Linked DNA regions of Homo sapiens. The protein of the gene in region 1 interacts with the protein of each later gene in a pairwise test. Each region holds a gene or a part of one and is shown in the gene's direction. Other genes may lie near its edges. The genes, in order: ZRANB1, RASAL3, ZBTB24, UBASH3A, ERF, CDKL3 and CNNM3.

Region 1 (3,500 bases):
GTCCTCCATGACTGCCGTATCTAAAATTTCATCCCTGTCCATTATCCCTCCCCACAGCATTAATTTTCTTCATAACACTTCTAATATGCTTCATCATCTTGTTTATTATTTGTCTCTCTCTACTCTAGAATTTAAGCTTCCTGAGGGCCAGTAATTTTATGTTTTGTTCAAAGCTGTATCTTAGTATGTACAACAGTGCCTGCTACATACATACTAGGCACTCAGGTATTTTTATATCAATGAACGAATGAATATTTTTGGGAACTAGGGTCTGGGCAAACCTTTATCCTACTCCTCCTATGAATTTCTAGATTCTTTGCCTGCTTCCTAGCTCTCTATGTTTTTCAATAGTTGGGGCTCAACCCAGGAGAGCCAGTTTTACTTCTCACTGGTTGTCAGGAAGACTGAGGTAAGTAGTGGGTATGAAAGGGTCTTACAGGAAAGGGTATAGAGGCTTCAGTTTATCACCAGGCAGTCTATGGACATGAAAAGTCTAAAGTCAGGTTTATGTTTAATTTCTCTACCTCCCTACTTTCACTCATGGCAATATTTGTTTTTTCAAAAAAATCATTCTATGTGTTTGCTATAACTATCAAATGAGATTTTTACTTGAAATATTTTATTCAGTTGTCATTGGACCTGCTGCTTCCTAGTTGGCGTTTATCTTACTTCCTAAACAATAGCTGCATCTTTCTTAAGTTTAGGAGCTGAGATTTGGTTGGGGCTGTTGAAGGTATAGGGGGAAAAAAATCAAACTTAAGTAACAAGTTCACATTGAAACTATGTATACACATATATATGTATATATATATGTTTACACACATATGTATATATATATGTTTACACACACATATATGTATATATATTCACGTATACACACACACACACACACACACACACATTTTTTTTTTTTTTTTGAGACAGGATCTTGCTCTGTTGCCCATGCTGGAGTGCAGTGGTGCGATCACAGCTCACTGCAGCCTTGACCTCCTGGGCTTAAGCAGTCCTCCCACCTCAGCTTCCCTAGTAGCTGGGCGTACAGGTGTATACCACCATGCCCCGCCAATTTTAAAAATGATTTGTAGAGATGGGGTCTCTCTGTGTTGCCCAGGCTGGTTTCAGACTCCTGGACTCAAGTACTGGGACTGCAGTTGTGAGCCACCACCTGGCCTGAAACTGGAATTTTTATGCTGAAATACTCAGTTGCCCAATAGCAGTGGTATGAACAGCTTTCACTATAGGGAATATGTGAATCAGTAATGCCTCCCGGTGCTCTGAAGTTTTGGGGTGACGTGAAGTGCACATGCAGTGGTGTTCCCTGTTGAAAATCAATGACTTACGGACTGAACCAGAATCTCTTCTTTATCAAGTAGCAGGATGAAGTGGCATCATGAGGATTATAATTCTGATGGTTTCTGAGCAAAATTTGTCCCACTTTCAGAATTTTGACATGTCTGTAAAGACTTAGATGATTTTTATTGTTTTATTTTTTAATTAATTAACTAATTAACTTTTTTGAGGCAAGGTGGTCTCACTGTCTCCCAGGCTAGAGTGCAGTGGTGTGTGATCTTGGCTCACTTCAATCTCTGCCTCCTGGGCTCAAGCAATTCTCCTACCTCAGCCACCCAGGTAGATGGGACTACAGACGTGCACCACCACGCCTGGCTAATTTTGCATTTTTTGTAGAGATGAGGTTTCCCCTTGTTGCCCAGGCTGGTCTCAAACTCCTGGGTTCAAGCAGCCCGCCCGCCTCGGTCTCCCAAAGTGCTGGGATTACAGGTGTGAGCCACTGTGCCTGGTCTTACATGATTTTTAAAACATAGAACATGTATTGGTAACGTTTTCTTATATTAGTTGTCTGCAAAAATATTGTTATATTTAATCTATTATTTTCCCTTTTCTCATAACTTAATTGTGTTGAGAATCAATGTTTGAGGCAAATCCATTTGGATTCTAATTGTATTTGGGCCTCTTGCCAGAAATCCGTATAACGTGTCATATGGTGTCTGTCCACTCTAGAGTGCCAAGTGTAACTCTAGAAATATCTAAATATTTCCACAGTTTCTGGATGGGTCTGGATATGGTGGCTCAGTCCTGTAATCCCAGCACTGTGGGAGGTTGAGAAGAGGGGAGGATCGTTTCAGCCTAGGACTCTAAAACCAACCTGGGCAACTTGGCGAGACCTCGTCTCTATAAAAAATAAAAAAAATTAGCAGGACATGGTGGTGTTCCCATGTGGTCCCCACCTATGCAGGAGGCTGGGATGGGAGGAACACTTGCGCCCAGGCTGCAGCGGGCCATGATTGTGTCACTGCATTGCAGCCTGGGTGACAGAGCAAGACCATGTCTTAAAACTTGCATGGTATTAAATATGTCAGAAGGTATTTGTCCATTTGGTTTTACTTACACACCTTGTTTAAAAAAAAAAATAGCAAAGTGTAGGCGTATTACATTTTAAAATATTCTTTTCAATTTGTTTTGGTATTGATATTAAGAATTACGTATATAGATGGACATTTACAATTTGTCAGAGGTTTTTCTCAAGTAAATTATTAAATTAGTATTACTTTTTTCTCTGGAGAAACAAAACCGTTGCAAAATGTAATCTTCTATAATGATTTTTTTAAAAAAAGTTTCTACTGTTGAAATATGTGCCTGGTGTAATGAAAGGGAGGTTGTACAATAATCCAAACAAAATTAAATTAACTTCTGTGAAGGAAAAGTCATTTAGTTTTTGAGAGATTATATTCCTTTGAACTGGAATGATTTTAAAGTGATTTATATTACCAAGAAAATTACCATGTCAAAACGGAAAAGGAAATCCTTGCATTGGACACTGGTGATTTTGCCCATTTAAGACATCTTTGGGGTGACTTTTTAACTTGAGAGAAAACTCAGGGCATACAAACGATTGTGAAGAAAAAAATAGAAGAGGCTTCTATTCTCTAGTTCATTACTCCTTAGCTTTAAAAATTATTTCTTTCACAAGGATATTTTATTGATGACTTACCTGAAGGCACAAAACATTTGGTGTTTTTAAAAACACACCATCTGCTGGTCGCGGTGGCTCATGCCTGTAATCCCAGCACTTTGGGAGAGCGGGGCGGTCGGATCACTTGAGGTCAGGAGTTCAAGACCAGCCTGGCCAACATGGTGAAACCTCGTCTCTACTGAAAATACAAAAATTAGCTGGGTGTGGTGGCGGGCATCTGTAATCCCAGCTACTTGGGAGGCTGAGGCAGAAGAATCTCTTGGACCTGGGAGGCGGAGGTTGCAGTGAGCTGAGATCATGCCACCGCACTCCAGCCCGGGCAACAAAGTGAAACTCTGTCTCAAAATAAATAAATAAATAAAAACAAAAAAATAAAAACAGTATTGATGAAATAAGTTATAATGTCCAAATTTACATTTTTAACTTGCCCATTGACTTCCTTATAGGTTCATCTCCCTCTACCCCCTCTTTGGGCTTTTTGGGTGATTTGCATGACCAATATAAATAG
Region 2 (3,500 bases), on another chromosome or scaffold:
CCCCCAACTCTCCCGGAGAGCCCAGAAAAGCTAGAAGACTTCCGCGTAACCGCCTCCGGACTCCCGTGGCTCCACTTCTTTCCCCAAAGGCCCAGCAATCTCCCTAGGGACCCGACGCAACAGGTTTGAGGCTCCACGCTTCACTTGCGGTGCCTTCTTTGGGGTGCCAACAAACCAAAACGCTTCCCCCCATCCCACTCCCATCTGCAGGACAACGTGGAGCGGGAAGAGACATGGCTGAGCGTGTGGGTGCACGAAGCGAAGGGGCTTCCCCGAGCAGCGGCGGGGGCACCCGGCGTGCGCGCCGAGCTGTGGCTGGATGGCGCGCTGCTGGCACGCACGGCGCCTCGGGCCGGCCCAGGCCAGCTCTTCTGGGCCGAGCGCTTCCACTTCGAGGCGCTGCCACCGGCACGTCGCCTGTCGCTGCGGCTGCGCGGCTTGGGCCCGGGAAGCGCGGTGCTGGGCCGCGTGGCCCTGGCGCTGGAGGAGCTGGACGCCCCACGCGCGCCTGCCGCCGGTCTGGAGCGCTGGTTCCCGCTGCTCGGGGCGCCGGCGGGCGCAGCGCTGCGGGCGCGGATTCGGGCGCGTCGCCTGCGCGTGCTGCCGTCCGAGCGCTACAAGGAGCTGGCGGAGTTCCTCACCTTCCACTATGCGCGCCTCTGCGGGGCCCTGGAGCCCGCGCTGCCTGCGCAGGCCAAGGAGGAGCTGGCGGCAGCCATGGTGCGCGTGCTGCGGGCCACCGGCCGGGCGCAGGTGCGGCACCGCGACAGCGCGGACCGGGGCTACCAGGGGTAGACCGATAACGCGCTTCGGGCAGGAGTTGGGGCGCAGGACCTGAGTTGCACCTGTAATGGGGGAGACACCTTGAAGGGGTGTGAGGGGCGTGGTCCAAGTGTCACCTGTAAGCGGCGGGGCACCTAGAAGGGCGGGGCACCTAGAAGGGCGGGGCCTGAACATCACCCGTAAGGGGCGGGGCACCTTGAAGGGCGGGACCTGAGCGTCAGCTGTGAGGGGCTGGGGCTGAGCTGCACCTGTAAGGGGCGGGGCACCTTGAAGGACTGGGCCTGAGCTTCAGCTGTGAGGGGCGGGGCCTAATTATCACCCATAAGGGGCGGGACACCTTGAAGAGCGGAGCCTAAGCTTCAGCTGCGACAGGGGCCTGAGCATCACGCGTGAGGGGCGGGGCCCAGGTTGCACCTCAGCGCTGAAAGGCTTAAATTTCTGCTGTGAGGGTTAGAGGTTCCGGCCTCGGTTATGAGCCCCAGCAGTAAGGACTGGGCCTAAGCATCAGCTACAAGGGGCGGGGCCTGTGCCTCTGGTGTGAGGGACCAGCCAAGGATCCGAATTCCCTTGGACTCTGTCTGCATCTGGTGCAACCTGACCTCCTGCCCTTCCTAGGCGCTGGTGACTGACCTGGGCACTGCGGAGCTGGCGCGCTGTGGAGGCCGTGAGGCGCTGCTGTTCCGGGAAAACACATTGGCCACCAAGGCTATCGATGAGTACATGAAGCTCGTGGCACAGGATTACCTCCAGGAGACCCTGGGTGAGCTGGGGGAGAGTCCATGTCAGCGGCCTGCTGGTGAGCTAGGGGACCTGGGTGAAGTTCTAAGAGTCCTTGAGCAACCTGGATTCTGGTAGTGAGTGGTGTTTTGGGGGTGCTAGGATCCTGGGGACAATTGGGAGCTCCCCAAGATGTTGGGTGCCTCCGGAATAACCTGAAGACAAGGTTGGAGGATGGGTGTGGCAGGTTTTGGTGGTCATGGCCCCAGCCCCTATCTGGCTGTGCTGGGCTGCAGGACAGGTTGTGCGGCGTCTCTGTGCTTCTACTGAGGACTGTGAAGTGGACCCCAGCAAATGTCCAGCCTCGGAGCTGCCAGAGCACCAGGCCAGACTTCGGAACAGCTGCGAGGAGGTCTTCGAAACCATTATCCATTCCTACGAGTGAGAATCAGGGCCCCAGCAGCTTAGCCCACCCCTGCTTACCATGCTAGCCCCGACCTCCAGTTTAGGGTGGCCAGATAAAATACAGGAGACACTCAGTTAAATTTGATGCAATAATTGGGACCATGCTTATACTAAAAAATTACTCATTTGAACCAGGCATGGTGACTCACGCCCGTAATCCCAATGCTTTAGGAGGCCGAGACAAGAGGATTGCTTGAGCCCAGGAGTTCAAGGCCAGTCTGGGCAACATAGCAAGACTCCATCTCTCCAAAAAGCTTTTTAAAAATGAGCTAGGCATGGTGGCACACACCTGTATTCCCAGCCGAGGCTGGAGGATCGCTTGAGCGCAGGATTCAAGGCTGCAGTGAGCTATGATCATGCCACAGCACCCCAGCCTGGTTGACAGAGACCCTGTCCCAAATAAAAGTAAAAATATAAATAAAAATCACTCCGTTATCTGAAATTCATGTTTAACTGGATGTCCTGAAGTTTCGTTTGCTGCATCTGGCAACCCTATCACCATGCAACCCTATCACCACTGACCCCAAGTAACCTGAGACCCAATTCCTTGTCCTGTAACCACAGTTGATTCCATATCCCCAATTTCATGCCACTGGCTCCAGTTAACATAGGACCTCAATCCTATGACCAGATGATGCCCCAAGTCCATGATCCCTGGCTTTAAGTGACCCTCCACCTCAAATCCCATGCAACTGATCACAGGAGACCTGGGATTCCAATCCCTTGACCTCTGACCCTAGGTTAACCTGCATACCTAATCCCTGACTTCAATCAAGTGACTTCTGACCCTAGGTGACCTCCAGAGCCCCAATCCTACTTTATATCTTGTACTCTGGCCCACCAGTCTCATGTCTAATTATAAGTACATCCAAGCTCATAACCTCTGTCTTCATGTGACCCTGTATCCCCAACTATAAGAGTATTATCCCCAGCGATTGCCATAGCTACACCATAAGCCATGGCCCCATGCTGATTCATAACCCCAAGCATTGTTATCTCAGATATTCCCAATCCTAGAGCCCAGACCCCAGGTTCAGTGAGAAGGAAGCCTGCATGGGCTTCATGAATAGCTCTCTGGAGGATCATGGACCAATCATGCAGTGCTTCTGGGACTCCCAACCTTATGACTTTAACCTTTATGCCCATAGCCTCCCCGTCTGACCATTCATTGCCTCTTCTGCACCAGCTGGTTCCCTGCGGAGCTGGGCATCGTGTTCTCAAGCTGGCGAGAAGCATGTAAAGAACGTGGCTCTGAGGTGCTGGGCCCCCGACTGGTGTGCGCCTCCCTCTTCCTGCGGCTCCTGTGCCCTGCCATCCTGGCACCCAGCCTCTTTGGTTTGGCACCAGACCATCCAGCACCCGGCCCAGCCCGCACCCTCACACTGATTGCCAAGGTCATCCAGAACCTCGCCAACCGTGCCCCGTAGGTGCTGGGAAGCTAGGGGTGGGGGGACCATGCTGGGAGTGTGGGGGTGGCAGGTGCCTGACCTGACCCACCCAGCCTGGCCCTGATCCAGGTTCGGTGAGAAGGAGGC
Region 3 (3,500 bases), on another chromosome or scaffold:
TCCCCAGGGTGGGCATTACCAACACCTAAATGGTGTTTTCTCAGCCTAGTATCATTTCCAACGTGGTGTCATTGAAAGACAGGATTTTGCATCTGTCTGAGTGCAGTTTAGAGTTCTGCACGGATCATTAAACTAGAGCTTATAAACTGGCTGCTGGGAGTTTAGTGTGCAAGCATGTTTTATTAAACCACCAAAGTTTAGAATTGTTTTACTTTGAACGCCTTTCGGGGAAACTTAAATTCTCCAGTTCTACCCCAGTCTCCAGTACTCCCGATTGCCTTACATACCTTTGCACATTTATGTTTCTGTGGTAGATTGAAGGCTTCTGGGTATGTAAACAAGTCGCTTGTATCATTTGTAGAAAATGGGGACCTGGACCCACTGTAGTATTTACCTTATTAGTGAGCATTCCAGTTCTTTATAATTTTTTACATGTTTTAGTGTTTTGGTTTTTTTGGCAGGACAGAAGTCTTTTACCTGTGATCAATGCGGAAAATATTTCAGCCAGAACAGACAGCTAAAGAGCCATTACCGAGTTCATACAGGTACGATAAAGTGAGAACATTTAGATTGGGGGGGAAGAAATGCAAATAAGAATTGTTTCTGAAACATTAGGTTTATATTGTTCTGCTCTTAGCACATATCGTTCACATAGGGTATTTAGGGAAAAGTGCCTTAAGAGTCTAAATTACATGTTTTTATGTTATTGTCCGCCACCATGTGAATTATGTTTTATTTGTATACTACAGTTTTGGTGCCACACACAGAAACCCTACAGAATTGGCATCTTTCAAAAGTGCCACTTGCACAGGGGAGCTTCAGTGAATGGTTGTTAGTGGTGCCTGGGCAGAGACATCATCATCCCATGGCTGTCAGCCCAGGCTTTCTCTCCCCTGGTTCTACCTGTTGTCCTTTTTCTTTCCTGCCAACTGATAAGAAATGAATGTGGGTTACGAGTGTCATTTGAGGTCATTTGTGGCCTCAGTCACACCAATACTTTGAGGAAAAAAGGAGAGACTACATTTAGAATTGGAAGGATCCTAGCTCTCTTGGAGGAGGCAGTGAGTTGAGGTGCTTAGGAAAATATTAACAGTTACCAAATTAATGAAAAAATTTTTGTGGTTAAAGTACTATATTTAAAGTGATTATTTTTCAGGGAAGTGCTTTAACACAAATCACTGAAGAAAAGGCAGGGAGAGCATGTATGCACTGACACTTTTTTTATTGTTGCGACAAGGCCACTCATTACCGGAATGCAAAGACTGCCATCGCAAATTCATGGATGTGTCTCAGCTAAAGAAACATCTGCGAACACACACAGGTAAAACTCCATCTCGTCTGTCCCCCCAGTACACGGGATGTTTTCAGGAGAGTGAAGAATGAAGTTCTCTGAGTGCCCTGCTAAGCCTGTGTTTGGAAATGTTTATTATAAATTGGATGGGAGTTGTGTAAGAAGATAAGTTAAAAGTTGGAAGGCAGAATGTTGTCAGCACTGTCTTTGGGGAAATCACATCTCTTGTAGATGAGCAAAATGGAGATCACTTACTGAGGACTATTCGTATGTCACAATTCATTTAATACCACAGAATAGTGAGTCTGAGTCTGGTTCTATGTTTCACTCTTAATTTACTTCAGCATTGAAGGTGATATCAAGACTTTTTTTTTTTTTTTTTTTTAAAGATAAGGGCTTGTGCTGTCATCCAGGCTAGAGTGTAGTGGCACGATCACAGCTCACCACAGCCTTGACCTCCTGGGCTGAGGTGATCGTCCCACCTCAGCCTCCTGGGTAGCTGGGACCACAGGTGCAAACCACCACACTACCTAATTTTTTATTTTTTAATTTTTGTAGAGATGGGTCCCACTATGTTGCCCAGGCTGGTCTTGAACTCCTGGGCTCAAGCAGTCTTCCTGTCTGAGCCTCCCAAAATGCTGAGATGACAGGCATGAGCCACCATACCCAGCAAGATAAATTTTTTTTTTTTTTTTTGAGACGGAGTCTCGCTCTGTTGCCAGGCTGCAGTGCAGTGGCACGATCTTGGCTCACTGCAACCTCTGCCTCCCGGGTTCAAGTGATTCTCCTGCCTCAGCCTCCCTAGTAGCTGGGACTATAGGTGTGCGCTACCATGCCCAGCTAATTTTTTTTGTATTTTTAGTAGAGATGGGGTTTTACCATGTTGGCCAGGATGGTCTCGATCTCTTGACCTTGTGATCTGCCCACCTTGGCCTCCCAAAGTGCTGGGATTACAGGCGTGAGCCACTGTGCCTGGCCCAAGATTATTTTTTTAGAAAAGACAGCCAAATGTAACAGACACAAATGTAGCATAGACACTGAGAATGTTTCCACTTTCTCCCCTAGAACCAACACTTAAACTTAAGCAGCACCACCTCCAGAAAAATCAGTTTCAGAGATGACGAGGAGGCAGCATTGATTAGGGCAGGTCAGTTTTTTTATGTAAGATCGGAAAATTGGATCTTTTATACCTTTTGTCAAAGAATGTATGTTAAAAATAAGCCTATTCAGTTTTCTAAGAAAAACTTGCCATTACAGGTTATTTAATAATTCTGTTGTCTACTGGAATTATCTAAATAGCAAATTGATTTATGGTGCTTTGGACTTTTTTTTTTTTTTTTTTTGGAGTCACTGTCTCTGTCGCCCAGGCTGTTGTGCAGTGGTGCTATCTTGGCTCACTGTAACCTCTGCCTGCTGGGTTCAAGCAATTCTCCTGCTTCATCCTCCCGAGTAGCTGGAACTACAGGTGCGCACCACCACGCCTGGCTAATTTTTGTGTTTTTTTTTTGTAGAGACAGGGTTTTGGCATGTTAGCCAGGCTGGTCTCGCTCAAACTCCTGGCTCAAGTGATCCACCCTCCCAGCCTCCCAAAGCGCTGGGATTACAGGCGTGAGCCACTGTGCCTGGCCTGGATGTTGTTTTTTAAATACAAGTTTTTCTTCTTAAATTCAGTAAACATCTCATAGGATATGGATTTTAACACATGTACTGAGCACTTACTGGGAACCAGACATTGTTTTAGGCTTTGAGGATACAGCAGTGAATGAGATGGACAGGCCCCTGCCTTAAGGGGCCAACATTCAATAGGGAAGACAGAGTACAGACAAGTATATAACACATTTGGTGTTGTGAGTGCGTTGAAGAATAAAATGCAAGGTAAGGGGGCGGGATGCCGGAAAGAGAGTTGCTCTTTTATGCATGGACTGGTTTGGGAAGGTCTCACAGATGAGGTGGCATCTTGGATGGAGATGAGAATGCAGTGGGGGAGTGAGCCAGCCGGCCATTGAAGATGTCCAGGAGAGAGCATTCTAGGCAGGGGGAGCCCTGGGCACAGGGCCCTCAGGCAGGAATAAATGTTTTTGACAAGCTGGAGACGTGCTGGGAGGAGCATCAAGGCAGCCAGAGAGCTGGGAGTAGGAAGTCATAGTGTAGGTGGATGTTCTCAATTTAGCTGCATGCTTTTTACCACCTGGGAAGCTTTAAAAAAAAG
Region 4 (3,500 bases), on another chromosome or scaffold:
CAAGGAACCCTCCATTCCAACACCAGGCCCCTCGGTGCTGGATGGAAAGGAGGAATGCAAACCTCTGAAGGGAAAAGATTTCTGGAAGATGTCCCAGGAGAAGCAGTACCTTCCAAAGCCTCCAACCACCACCCCGGATTGCCCGAGACTTGCAGGGATCCCCAGAGCACAAGACTAAACCTGGAAAAGCCCCAGAAAAATCGAGAGAGTTTTCCCCCTACATCGACATCAATGGTACTTGTGACAAGCTGACTCCCTTCTGGTTCACCCTCTGGAGCCAACGGGGAAAGGCAAGGCAGCCCAAGCCATGTGACACAGCTCAGAAATCAGAGCAGGCCTTGGCCCCCCACTCCTTCCCCAGCCCACTGAGGTGCAAGCACACACACACACACACAGATAGACACAGAGACACACACATAGCTCACACACATAGACACACACAGATTGACACAGAGACTTACACATGCACACAGATACACACACATACATGCATACAGACATACATAGATATAGACACACAGACACACACAGATAGACACAGAGACGTACACACGGCACACACAGATACACACACATACATGCATACAGACATACATAGATATAGACACACAGACACACACAGACATGGAGACGTACACACGGCACACACAGATACACACACATACATGCATACAGACACACACAGAGACACAGATACACACAGACACACACAGATAGACACAGAGACGTACACAGCACACACAGATACACACACATACCTGCATACAGACATACATAGATATAGACACACAGACACACACATATATACATGCATACATGGATACAGACATACACAGACACACACAGATAGACACACATACACACTACATGTACATAGGTACACATGCAAACAGATACACACAGATATACACACACAGGAATACACAGATACATGCACATAGACACACACAGACACACACAGAGACACACATTAGATAGACACACATGCACAAACACAGACATGCACATACATGCACATACATAGACAAATGCACACATACAGACACACACATAAGCACCACATGCACACATATGCACACAGATACACACATGCATACACACAGACACACATATAGACATACGCAGACACACAGACACACATAGACATACGCATATGCAGACACACACACAGACACACACACATATAGACATATGCAGACACAAACACACTCACACACCTCCCTCTGTCGTTAGCTCCTCCCAGTCCCCCACCCCAGTTCTGGCCTGGCCGTGGTTAGTGGAGCTCCCCTCACAGGCAGAAGAGTGTAACGGAGACTCACTGTGTACCTTGATGCTGTAAAATGAAAACACTAATCTTCCGAAGTGTGATATTGATCACAGCTACACTTATAACATGACTATTCTTGAAAATTACATATCTGAGGCCAAGAAACACAATGTGAGACGGATTCAGGAATGGACATGTGTTCACTGGGTGGTTTTGTGTTGAGTGCCGTTGAGGGTTGCAGAGAAAACAGACAGGGAGGAATGTCAGGCCGGCCTGTCCATGGGGAGACGGAAGCTGCATTAAACACTGTGATCTGGCCTCATACTTGGGCTTGTAAGAAGCACTGTGGGAAATTCCGAGGGCAGCCCGGTGCTGGGAAGAGAAGGGATCAGGCCAACTCCCGCCAGGAGGGTGTGGTGTCTGGGTTTCCCCTGTGGTCCGATGTGGCCAATGGCACTGGGAAGGTTTTCAAGCCCAGGAAGCAGCCTCCCCAGGGCGGTAGGCAACACCGAGCCCAGATGTCAGGAGAGGCTGCGTCTGGCTGGAGGATGGGGGTGGGAGCCCCGTGGGCAAGGCTGTCGGGCCAGCACCTGTCGGGCTCCGTGGGCCTGAGGGATTCTCCAGGTGACAGAGAGCCTGCGGCCTCAGGGGTGGGAGCTGCATCAGAAAGAGGGTCCTGCAGCCACTCAGGGGGCATCAGGGAGGCCGGGCCAGGGGCTGTGCAGGCTCAGGTCCTCCAGGGAGCAGACCCCAAGGCAGAATTCCCAGTGCAGGAGACGCACAGGGGAGAGACTGCTGGTGAAGGCAAAAGAGGAGGAGAGGGTTGGAGGCAGGCAGAGCCTCAGTGCCTTAGAGGAGTCCCTGTGGAACCCGACTCAGTGCTCAGCCGTGGAAGAGAGGGTGGCCCCGCAGCTGGAAGTGCAGCTGAGTCCCGCTCACTACAGGCTCTGAGCAGTGCCTGGGCAGCCTTGGAGTCTGCTAGAAACCTCCAGAAGCCAAATCATGCAAACCTGAGCAAAGCAGTGTGCCATGGGACTGAGGAAAGGGCCTGGCAGGTGATGAGCACGTGCCATGGAGGGAGGGGATGCAGTTCAACGACCAGGGGATTTCCAACCTGGGCACCTAAAGGAGACTCCAACCTGCAAAGAAACTTACCTGAAATATTTGAAAAAACCGAGGTCCAGGTATAGAACAAATCCATAACCCCAGACACAAAGGGACGCAATAAATTATGTTACAGCGCTTTGAACAGAAAAGAATCTCACTTTAATTGCTGCCTGATTGTTATTAATTAAATTAATAGATGACTTCTGATGAGAGGTGTGGAAACACAGGCTCTGTCTCTGTCCCCTTAGTGTGAAGACCAGAAGGTGGAATGCCTGTACGAGGCGCTGAAGAGAGCTGGAGACAGGCTCCTGGGCTCCTTCCCCACGGCCGTGCCTCTGGCTCTCCACTCCTCCATCAGCTACCTCGGCTTCTTCGTCAGTGGCAGCCCCGCAGACGTCATCCGGGAATTCGCCATGACCTTCGCCACGGAAGCATCTCTCTTAGCAGGTGGGCAGCCCTGGCCAGTTGCAAACACAGGGCTGGATTCACAGTGAGTGAGCCCTCTGTGGCAGGGACTAGCCCCCGGCACATGGATGCAGTGGGTGGGTTCCAGGGGAGCAGAGCCCAGCAGCAATGGTGGGATGGCTGGGTGGGCTTTCTTCCGGGCTCAGTGGCTGCACCTGTCCTCACCCAGGCACTTCCGTTTCCCGCTTCTGGATTTTCAGCCAGGTGCCTGGACATGGCCCTAACCTGAGGCTGAGCAATTTAACTAGAGCCTCCTTCGTGAGCCACTACATCCTTCAAAAATGTAAGCCATTAGAAAGCTTCCGGACCAGCTTTGGTCTTCTCTTTAGGCGGGAATAGCCTTGTTCTCATTATGTGGTTTTTAAAATGCTTAGCTATATGCCAACAGCCTGGGAAAGTGCCCCAGAAGGGTGTGCCAAGCATCAAGCCTGAGTGGGTGACTGTGACGGGGTTGGAGGCTGGTGCACACAGGGAGTCAGGGCCTCCCCACCCCAGCCTTGAGTGGGAGACACACAAGTCCTACGTGACTTATTTCTGTATTTTCAGTATGAGCTTAGTGCTCTCTCCTTGGCCTCTCCAGGGAAAGATTATTTAGACTCATATTCAGAATCATCAAAATTCCCTTCTCTCCAAACACCAGCCCTGGCCTGGAGACCAAGGC
Region 5 (2,530 bases), on another chromosome or scaffold:
ACCTTGTGATCTGGATTCTCTAGAAGGGTGAGGATAATGGGTTGAACACCTAGATTCCCAAGAGAGCGATGGTGCTCTGGGGTCTCTGGAAGGGGTTGTCAAAGGCTGTCACTTTTAAATGGAACAGGGGCTGTTGGTGCTGGTCTGTGAACAGCTGGAGGTCATATCCCTGGCACCCTGAGGGGCTGGTGGAAGGCTGGGATATATCTGAATGGGGCAGGGACTCCGGGGGCTATGTGGTACTGCAGCCCAGTCTGGGCAGGAGTTGGGGGCCTACAGTGAGCTCTGGATTTGGAGGGGGTGGTCCCTGTGGGAGCAGGAACTACTGATTCCCTGGATTCCCAAGGGGAAGGATCCCTTGTTGGATTCCAGACTTGGGTGGAGTCTTTGAGGGTGGATGTGTTGCCTGGAGGCCTTGTTGGTACCTGTTTGAGCTGGGGCCAAGGGAGGCGGATTGACCCCTGCAGCCTGACTGGATTTGGGAGCCGCCCATCTTTAGCTGGCCACCTTGGCCTTCTCTCTCTAGTGGCACCAGGGACCCTGCTCTGCCTCCCCACTCCTTCCCTTCCTCCCCTTTCCCTCCTCCCACCCCTCCATTACCGGCTGCCTGGTGCTGAATTATTGATGGCCCCTGTTGTTGGGAAATGACAACAACCGCAGTCCCCCCACCCCCCACCCCCCACCCCAGGCTGCCCACCCCCTCCAGAGACCAGCCAGCCCACCGCCAACCTCTACCCAAGGTTAATGCTGGGGGTGGGCAGGCAGGTGGGCAGGGAAGGAGCTGAAGATGAGAAGGCAGAAGTGGGAAGAGGGTGACAGCTCCAGGGTGCCTGCTCAAGCTCCAGGCCTGGGCTGGGCCCTCCAGCCAGGTGGGGCCTGGATGCCTGGGTCTGGGGAGGGCAGTGTAGCTCAGAGGGTCCAGGGCTTGGGGGGCCTCTCAGACAGTCTGGGTTTCACTCTCCAGGGAAGACAGAAGCCTCTGTGTGTGCAAGCGCTGACCTCATCGGCAACCGAGTCACCCCACCCCTCCTGGTCCTTTTAAGAAAAAAAAAAAAAATCTTCCTCTCAGGTCTTGGGGTTGGGAGTAGGGGCTCTGTTGGGTCTTCGGAGGAGACAGTGCATGTTTCTAAGGAGGACATCCGAGGAGCTGGGGTGGTGCAACTGGCTCTGAATGGGAGTGGGGGTAAGCTGGGGGGCTGTACCCCAACCCGGCTGGCCACGTGTGCCCCTTCCTGCCCCTCCCCCACTGGCAGCCCTGCCCGCCAGCCTGGCTTGGTGCCTGGCCCCCTGGCACTGGCCCCGGGACCCACCGCCGACGGTTTCCTGTTTCTCCCGGTGTCGCTGGAGCGGGCTCCAGCTTCCCCTCCCCCCCAGCTCCTGTCTAGCCCCTCACATGCAGACAGACAGACACGCACTGTCTTCTCTTAAATCAGATCTTGACTTGGCTGAGGTGAGACAGATTTCCCCATGTTGAAGGCAGGGCAGAGGTGGACCCTGGGATGGGACCCAGAGCCCTGGACTTGGCAGCCTGACCCCAGGCCACTCCCTGCCTCCCGTCCCCAGGGTTTGCCTTCCCGGATTGGGCCTACAAGCCAGAGTCGTCCCCTGGCTCAAGGCAGATCCAGCTGTGGCACTTTATCCTGGAGCTGCTGCGGAAGGAGGAGTACCAGGGCGTCATTGCCTGGCAGGGGGACTACGGGGAATTCGTCATCAAAGACCCTGATGAGGTGGCCCGGCTGTGGGGCGTTCGCAAGTGCAAGCCCCAGATGAATTACGACAAGCTGAGCCGGGCCCTGCGGTGAGGACGGGCTGGGGACCCCTGAGCACATGTGGAGTGCCCCCCCGGGGTTGCACAGCCCCTTGCCTGTGGGAACAAGCATTGGGTCTGACCCCTGGCTTTGCCAAATCCTAGCTGTGTGACCTTGGGCCACTCCCAGCCCTTCCCTGAGCCCCTTGGTAACACAGACGTATCCTGAGGAGAGATTACAGTCACCAGTGGATCCTCTAGTCCTGCCTTAGATGTGAGGAGAGAGCTGGTACCCACCCTCTGGGCACTTGATTTGTCTTTTGTGGCCTACGTTCCTCAGTTGGCCTTTGGGAACCACACCTAAGTGCGTGTTAAGGTGTGGAGTCTAGACCTGGGTCCCACGTACCTGACCTTCCCAATGGCATTTCTGTACCCACAGCTATTACTATAACAAGCGCATTCTGCACAAGACCAAGGGGAAACGGTTCACCTACAAGTTCAATTTCAACAAACTGGTGCTGGTCAATTACCCATTCATTGATGTGGGGTTGGCTGGTGAGTACCAGGGATGGTTGGTGTGGAGAGGGTCTACATGCCCCTTCAGGCTAGGCCAGGGGCCTTGACACTGTCTCCCTTCTGCCAGGGGGTGCAGTGCCCCAGAGTGCCCCGCCAGTGCCGTCGGGTGGTAGCCACTTCCGCTTCCCTCCCTCAACGCCCTCCGAGGTGCTGTCCCCCACCGAGGACCCCCGCTCACCACCAGCCTGCTCTTCATCTTCATCTTCC
Region 6 (3,500 bases), on another chromosome or scaffold:
ATAGACAAAATGCTTATACATGTGTGGGTTTGTTTCTGTTCCATTGATTTTTCTCTTTATTCTAGAAGTAGTACAACTTTGATTTATTATTGTAACTTTAAAATACACTTTGATATCTGATGTAGGGCACATATTTTTCCTAGATATAAATTTTCTAAACAATGTTATTGAGGTATAATTTGTGGGCAGTAAACTATACATACTTAAAATGTACAATTTGAAGAGTTTTGATGCATGTATACACACATGAAACCACCACCACAATCAGGATACCTAACACACACACACACAAACACACACACGATACCTAACATTTCCATCACTCTCCAAAATTTCATTGTGTCCTTTTACAATTCATCTTTTCTTCCATTTCTGTCCCCAGATAACCACTGATTTGCTTTCTATTCCCATAGATTAGTTTGAATTTTCTAGAATCTTATATAAATAGAAGCATACAGTAGGCACTCTTTCATGTCTGGCTTCTTCCACTCAGCATAATGGTTTAGAGATTCATTCATGTTTTTGTATGTATCAGCAATTTGTTCCTTTTTTGCAGAGTAGTAGTTCATTATATGACTATACCACATTTTAAAAAATCCTTTCCCTGTTGATGGACATGTGGGTTATTTCCCACTTTTCGCTATTACAAATAAAGTTGCCATGAGAACATTCATGTTTGTCTTTGTATGGAACACACATTGTATTTTCATTCCTCCTGCAGAAATATCTAAGAACAGAATGGCTGGGTCATGGGTAGGCATATGTTTAATTTTTAAAGAAACTGCCAATCTGTTTCCCAAAGTGTCATGTTTTACATTTTCCAAAGTAGGGCATATATTTAAATTTACTGAATTATATTCACAGAAGGACTGCCTCTAATTGTCTGCCCCTATGATTTGGTCAGACCTTTTAGCATTTTTCTTATAAGTTTTAGTGATAGATTACCATTATATTCTAAAATGAGCACATATTTTTAACTAGTTGCAGGGTTTTTTTAATTTGTTTGTTTCGTTTTGTTTTGTTTTTGAGACGGAGCTTTGCTCTTCTTGCCCAGGCTGGAGTGCAATGGCGTGATCTTGGCTCACCGCAACCTCCTGTCTCCCGGGTTCAAGCAATTCTTCCGCCTTAGCCTCCGAGTGGCTGGGATTACAGGCATGTGCCACCACACCCGGCTAATTTTGTATTATTTTTTTTTTAGTGGGGACGGAGTTTCTCCATGTTGGTCAGGCTGGTCTCTAACTCCCAACCTCAGGTGATCCACCCTCTGTTGCCCCCCAAAGTGCTGGGATTACACGCATGAGCCACCACACCTGGCCAACTAGTTGCAGTCTTAAAGACCTAGGTATTGCCACATCATTAAGTAGGTAACAGACTTAAATAATTTCTCCTTGTGAATCAATGTTTTTTATTTTGGTAAAAAAAAAACCCCACATAACATGGAATCTACCTTCTTACAAAATTATTAAGTGTACAGTATGGCATTTTTAACTATATGCACATTATAGTACAGCAGATCTCTAGATTTTTTTCTGTGAATCAGTTTAAATATGCATTTTGAAATAAACAGAAACATAATATTATATACAATTATCTTGGATTTGCTGGATTTTAATTGTGGCTCCTCTACTTATGAGATCTTAAACAAATTACTTGATCTCTCTGGGCCTCAGTCTCCTCATCTGTATAATGAGGATAATAATAATACTTACTTTGTAGGATTGTTGTTGCGATGGAAGGAAGAAAAAGCTGGAGCGTTGTCTGGTATGTAGTAAGCATCAATAAAAGTTACTAGTCAGGCTTGGTGGCATGTGTCTGTAGTCTGAGCTACTCAAGAGGCTAAGGAAGGAGGATATCTTGAGCCAAGGAGTTCAAGGCTCCAGTGAGCTATAATTGCACCACTGCACTCCAGCCTGGGCGACAGAGTAAGAACCTGTCTCTAAAAAATTTTAAAAGGCCAAGCACAGTGGCTGTCTTCTGTAATTCCAGCACTTTGGGAGACTGAGGCGGGAGAATCGCTTGAACTCAAGAGTTCATCAGCCTTACAACATAACAAGACTCCCATCTCTACAAAAAAGTTAACTATTAATGTTTTACCTCCTTTCACAGGAGGAATGAAAATTATAAAGCAGATGCTTTTTATTGAAAACCTGTTTTCAGTATTTTGATTAAAGAAATGTGTTCCATTTATAATTATTGTTATTTAACTACATATAGATTTATTATGTACAACTTAACATTCAAAACTACCTTCCATATTTTGTTTGTTTGTTTCTATACCAAGAAAGGGAAACAGAAAAGAGCTGATTTAATAATGGGTTATTGAAAGATTTAGGGACTTGAATATTTGCAAAATGGTATTATGATATAGAAAGAGTGCTGGATTAGGCGTCAGACAACATGGGTTAAAACTCGTGTTTGGCAAACTACTAATCATGCTTCTAGATCTGTAAAATGCAAATGATTATCCATGAACTTTCCACCTGTCAGGGCAGAAAAGAGGATCAAAATGAGCTAATTAATTTTTGCTAATTTCAGCAGAAACAGACTGACCTCTGTTTTGGCTAGAATCATGGGACATTTAACCTATAATAATGTTTTGCAAGTGCAAATTCCTTAGGGAAATAAACAGCCAGAACTTACTACCAGAAGTTCCTGAGGTCTAATTCCATCTTTTCAAGAAGGCTTTTTGATCTGGATAATTACTTACTTCTTAATTTGTCAAATAAATTTAATTTTTACCATATGGAGCCCTGTTGAGAGCTCACTTATTAAAATCTTTTTCCTTTCCTAGGCTTGTTTACAAATTGATCCTGCTGACAGGATATCATCTAGTGATCTTTTGCATCATGAGTATTTTACTAGAGATGGATTTATTGAAAAGTAAGCATTTTGAGTGAATGTGGGTTTTTTAAAAGCATTTTGTATTGGGAAATTTTACTAGCAGGAAAATTGCTGTATAGGTTACTTTTATATAACAAATATTCAGTTTAACAAAAATTTATTGAGTTATTGTATCAGGTATTGACTAGGAAGACAGCAGACTTAACAAGTGTCACGAATGAAAAGCCTAATAATAGGATGGGCATAGTGGCTCACACCTGTAATCCCAGCACTTTGCGAAGCTGAGGCAGGCAGATTGCTTGAGCCCTGGAGTTCACGACCGGCCTGGGCAACATAGAGAGACCCCTGTCTCTACAAAAAATACAAAAATTAGCAAGGTGTGGTGGCACACGCTTGTAGTCCCAGCTACTCGGGAGGCTCAGGTGGGAGGATTGCTTAAACCCCAGAGGTGGAGGTTGCAGTGAGCTGAGATTGCACCACTGCACTCCAGCCTGGGTGACAGGTTGAGACCCTATCTCAAAAAAAGAAAAAGAAAGTCTAATAATAAAAAGTAATTGCAACTAACATTCGTTACACAGTTACCATGTCCTAGGCAGTGTGCTCTGCTCTTTACATACTACAGTTTCAGTGTCATCATAGACCAGAGATAACATTAAATA
Region 7 (3,500 bases), on another chromosome or scaffold:
TTCTCCTGGTGTGGTGGCCAACATTGCAACCCTGGAATCAGCGGAGTAGGTTCCATCCTGCCCTTGCCTGCCCCCAGGCCCTGAAGGCTGCTCAGCCTCTTGTGGTGCAAAGTCCTCTGCTGTTAGTGATAAGAGTGGGTAAACAGACCTGCGGGGGGAGACTCATCAAGCACTTTGGCCAGTGCCTGGCGTGCATATGCTGTGTGCTTGGCGTTAGCAGGTGGTTCTTACTCCGGGACAGGCTCTGCTGGTAGGTGAGCTGTTTGCCAATCCAGGAGCAAGGGGTGAATCTGGAATTGCAGATTTCTGTTCTTCTAGGCAGGTCACCAGACTTCCTTTTTTTTAGGGAAAAAGTGGAAGACTGTAGCTGTCCTTTTGGTGTTCAAAGCACTCACGTTTCTAGATTCTTTAAGAAAAAGCTCACTCTGGTGTCTGGCTTCAGCTGGCTGCTGCTTTCAACAGTTGAGCAGTCACCAAGCAGAGATTTGGAGCAGCGGAGATGGAAGGGTTGTCCTGTTCAGAACTAAAGGCAACTTCTGTAGTTGGTCATGATGCTCAGGATGAGGCTGGTGAAAGTGGTCTTTCATTTTCCAAACCGCCAGTGTCAGGATCTTCGCTGCCATGGTCTTGTCTTTCAGATGCGATGGATGAGCTTGGTCCAGGGTGGTTGGGGATTCCACTTGGGGAAGAATAAAAAATGTTCATGTTCGTTGGGAAGGAGCGCAGAGGCAGGATGTCCCCTGGCGGGGGGGCTTGTGTGCTGTGTAAGGAACTTGTACTTGATCACCAGGGCCATGAGCATCAAGCAGCAGCATCAGTTATTTTTACAGATCAGTAACAATTGTGGACACCAGCGCAGGGAGACCAGCGGTGTGAGGGATCCAGGTGAGAGGGGATGATAACCTGAACAAGGTTCATGGCAGGCCTGGAGAGGAGCCCCAAGAGGGCAGCAGAGGTGGAATTGGGAAGATTGGTATCTGGCAGCAGGGCTATGCAACAAGGAGGAGCAGCTGAGGATGAGGCCCAGATTTCTGGCTGTGTGGTGGCGGTGCGCCTTCACTAAGGGCCGGGCGTGGGGAGCAGGTTTTGGCCATTGAATTTGTGTCTGTGCAGTGTCCCAAGAGGCAAACTCCTAGCAGGCCGTTGATGTGAAATGCAAGTGGGAGGCAGAATAGGAGTGTCTCTCAAGTCATGGGAGGGAGGCAGAGAGCCTCAGCCTCCTAGGAGCACAGGTGTGTCAGGGGCAAGGGAAGCCCAGGAGAAGCTGGCCAGGAGGAGGCAAGACCAAGGAAGGAGGAGTTCCCGAGATGCGGAATGTCCTGGAAGCTAAGGGAAGAGACCACTTTCCCAGGGAAGGTGAGTGACAGGAGAGGAGGCCAGCAAACAGGATGCCGTTGACCTTTGCAAGAGCAGATTTGGTGCCACGGCAAGGGAGCCATTTGGGGAATGAATGAGGTGTGGAAAGGTACGAGAACCAATGTAGACAGCCCTCCACAGAGTGTGGCTGCAGAGAGAAGTGACTGGCAGAGGATGTGGGACAGGGGAGGAGGCCTTCTGCTGTTTGGTTTTAAGATGGGCAAGTCCAGTAGGTTCAGATTGAAATGCAGGTTGAAATGTAGCTAGGAAGGAAATTAGAGAGGCCAGGGTCCGGGCTGCTCCTGTTCTGGGCTGGGTGGCCTCCAGGCAGGTCACAAGCAGCCCGATGCAGGAGGATTTGGGGTTGAGTGCCTCTGCTTGAAACAGACCTTTCTAAAAGCTGCCTGACAACATGCTGAAAAGGATCCCCTTGGAAGACAGTGGGGGAGGTTTTTGGAACCTGGAGGTTAAATGGGGAGCTCTTTAATCCCCCTTGACTTCCCCGCTCCTGTGGTGAGTGAGGGCCATTCGTGGGCAGACTGGCCATGTCTTTCTGGTGACATCCCGGAGCTTTTTTCTCTGCTTCTCTAGTTCAGTGCAGTCCTTTGGCAAATATCTTTATTTTTTCCGTGTTAAAGTCCTTTTTGTCCTTCCTAACCTTCTTAAGCATTCCTCCACTTAGGAACAAAGGGCATATTGCAGTCTTTGTGGCGTGTGAGGTTTTAAAAATCGATTCCCTTTCCATCTCTCTGCCAAGCTAATGAGCCTCTGAATTTCGTGGAGCTGGAGTCCCTGCCATCTTGGCAGCTTTCATTCCGGGTCTTGTTTCTTTTGCTGTGTCTGCTAGGGAACTTTGTAGTCTGGGGGCAAGGTAACCTCCCCAGCAAGGCGCCCCTCAATCAGTGCCAACTTGAGATGACGTGCTGATTATTTTGTGCAGACGTCACCAGGAAGAGTGAGTGCTTTGGAGCCATAATAAATAACTTGGACAGCTGCTCCTTGACTTACAAATGGAGTTATGTCCTGATAAACCCATTGTAAGTTGAAAATACCTTAAGTCAAAAATGTGTTTGATACATCTAACCTACCAAACCAAATAGTTCAGCCTGGCCCACCTTAAACATGCTCAGAACACTTACTTTAGCCTGCAGTTGGGCAAAGTCATCTAACACAAAACTATTTTAAAATAAAGTGTTGAATATCTCATGTAATTTATTGACTGCTGTACTGAAAGTGAAAACAGAATGGTTATATGTGTTTGAAGTATGGTTTCTACTGAATGCATATTGCTTTTGAACCATCAAATTTGAAAAATTGTAATTTGAACCATTGTTAAGTAAGGGACCTTAATGTACAAAAGAACATTATTATTATTATTATTATTTTTTTTTTTTTTTTGAGATGGAGTGTTGCTCTCTTGCCAGGCTGGAGTGCAGTGGCACAATCTTGGCTCACTGCAACCTCTGCCTCCCGGGTTCAAGTGATTCTTCTGCCTCAGCCTCCTGAGTAGCTGGGACTACAGGCGTGCACCACCACGCCCAGCTAACTTTTTTATGTTTTTAGGAGAGATGGAGTTTCACAATGTTGGCCAGGATAGTTTCGATCTCTTGACCTTATGATCCGCCCGTCTCGGCCTCCCAAAGTGCTGGGATTACAGGTGTGAGCCACTGCGCCTGGCCAAGAACATTATTATTATTATTTTTGAGACAGAGTCTTGCTCTGTCACCTGGGTTGGAGTGCAGTGATGTGATCGTGGCTCACTGTAGCCTCTACCTCCTGGGCTCAAGTGATCCTTCCACTTCAGCCTCCTGAGTAAGCTGGGGCCACAGGTGAACACCACCATCCCCAGCTAATTTTTAATTTTATGTAGAGATTGGGGTCTCCCTATGTTGCCCAGGCTGGTCTCAAACTCCTGGCCTCAAGCGATCCTCCCAGCTCAGCTTCCCAAAGAGATGGGATTACAGGTGTTTCCCACTGTGCCTGGCCGCAGTCTCTGCTTTAAAGGAACCCAGCTCTGGTTTCCTGTCTGCTGGGAGCCAGATGATTGCCATGATGCGGAAAAGAGTCTGACCAGCTCCAACAGCAGTGAGGAGCGTCAGCACACTACTTTTGTCTTTCTCACAGTATTCATTCATTCACTGAGG

Evidence for each region.
Region 2: the proteins of ZRANB1 (region 1) and RASAL3 interact in binary tests that used the Homo sapiens proteins (3 or more experiments, as listed by UniProt).
Region 3: the proteins of ZRANB1 (region 1) and ZBTB24 interact in binary tests that used the Homo sapiens proteins (3 or more experiments, as listed by UniProt).
Region 4: the proteins of ZRANB1 (region 1) and UBASH3A interact in binary tests that used the Homo sapiens proteins (3 or more experiments, as listed by UniProt).
Region 5: the proteins of ZRANB1 (region 1) and ERF interact in binary tests that used the Homo sapiens proteins (3 or more experiments, as listed by UniProt).
Region 6: the proteins of ZRANB1 (region 1) and CDKL3 interact in binary tests that used the Homo sapiens proteins (3 or more experiments, as listed by UniProt).
Region 7: the proteins of ZRANB1 (region 1) and CNNM3 interact in binary tests that used the Homo sapiens proteins (3 or more experiments, as listed by UniProt).

Annotation. Positions count from the first base shown.
Region 1 is NC_000010.11:124,948,623-124,952,122, forward strand, and holds part of ZRANB1 (ubiquitin thioesterase ZRANB1), read left to right. Parts: intron 1-3,500. UniProt on the Homo sapiens protein: Ubiquitin thioesterase, which specifically hydrolyzes 'Lys-29'-linked and 'Lys-33'-linked diubiquitin. Also cleaves 'Lys-63'-linked chains, but with 40-fold less efficiency compared to 'Lys-29'-linked ones.
Region 2 is NC_000019.10:15,454,545-15,458,044, reverse strand, and holds part of RASAL3 (RAS protein activator like-3), read left to right. Parts: intron 1-210; coding exon 211-753; intron 754-1,398; coding exon 1,399-1,543; intron 1,544-1,796; coding exon 1,797-1,941; coding exon of another isoform or gene 1,942-1,945; exon of another isoform or gene 1,946-2,136; coding exon of another isoform or gene 2,137-2,196; exon of another isoform or gene 2,197-2,407; intron 2,408-3,113; coding exon of another isoform or gene 3,114-3,151; coding exon 3,152-3,388; intron 3,389-3,482; coding exon 3,483-3,500. UniProt on the Homo sapiens protein: Functions as a Ras GTPase-activating protein. Plays an important role in the expansion and functions of natural killer T (NKT) cells in the liver by negatively regulating RAS activity and the down-stream ERK signaling pathway.
Region 3 is NC_000006.12:109,473,220-109,476,719, reverse strand, and holds part of ZBTB24 (zinc finger and BTB domain-containing protein 24), read left to right. Parts: intron 1-461; coding exon 462-545; intron 546-1,237; coding exon 1,238-1,321; intron 1,322-3,500. UniProt on the Homo sapiens protein: May be involved in BMP2-induced transcription.
Region 4 is NC_000021.9:42,410,402-42,413,901, forward strand, and holds part of UBASH3A (ubiquitin-associated and SH3 domain-containing protein A), read left to right. Parts: intron 1-2,622; coding exon 2,623-2,821; intron 2,822-3,008; coding exon 3,009-3,122; intron 3,123-3,157; exon of another isoform or gene 3,158-3,500. UniProt on the Homo sapiens protein: Interferes with CBL-mediated down-regulation and degradation of receptor-type tyrosine kinases. Promotes accumulation of activated target receptors, such as T-cell receptors, EGFR and PDGFRB, on the cell surface.
Region 5 is NC_000019.10:42,249,599-42,252,128, reverse strand, and holds part of ERF (ETS domain-containing transcription factor ERF), read left to right. Parts: intron 1-688; exon of another isoform or gene 689-740; intron 741-964; exon of another isoform or gene 965-1,183; intron 1,184-1,563; coding exon 1,564-1,798; intron 1,799-2,186; coding exon 2,187-2,302; intron 2,303-2,390; coding exon 2,391-2,530. UniProt on the Homo sapiens protein: Potent transcriptional repressor that binds to the H1 element of the Ets2 promoter. May regulate other genes involved in cellular proliferation.
Region 6 is NC_000005.10:134,311,672-134,315,171, reverse strand, and holds part of CDKL3 (cyclin-dependent kinase-like 3), read left to right. Parts: intron 1-1,254; exon of another isoform or gene 1,255-1,761; intron 1,762-2,791; coding exon 2,792-2,880; intron 2,881-3,500.
Region 7 is NC_000002.12:96,819,268-96,822,767, forward strand, and holds part of CNNM3 (metal transporter CNNM3 isoform 1 precursor), read left to right. Parts: intron 1-3,500. UniProt on the Homo sapiens protein: Probable metal transporter.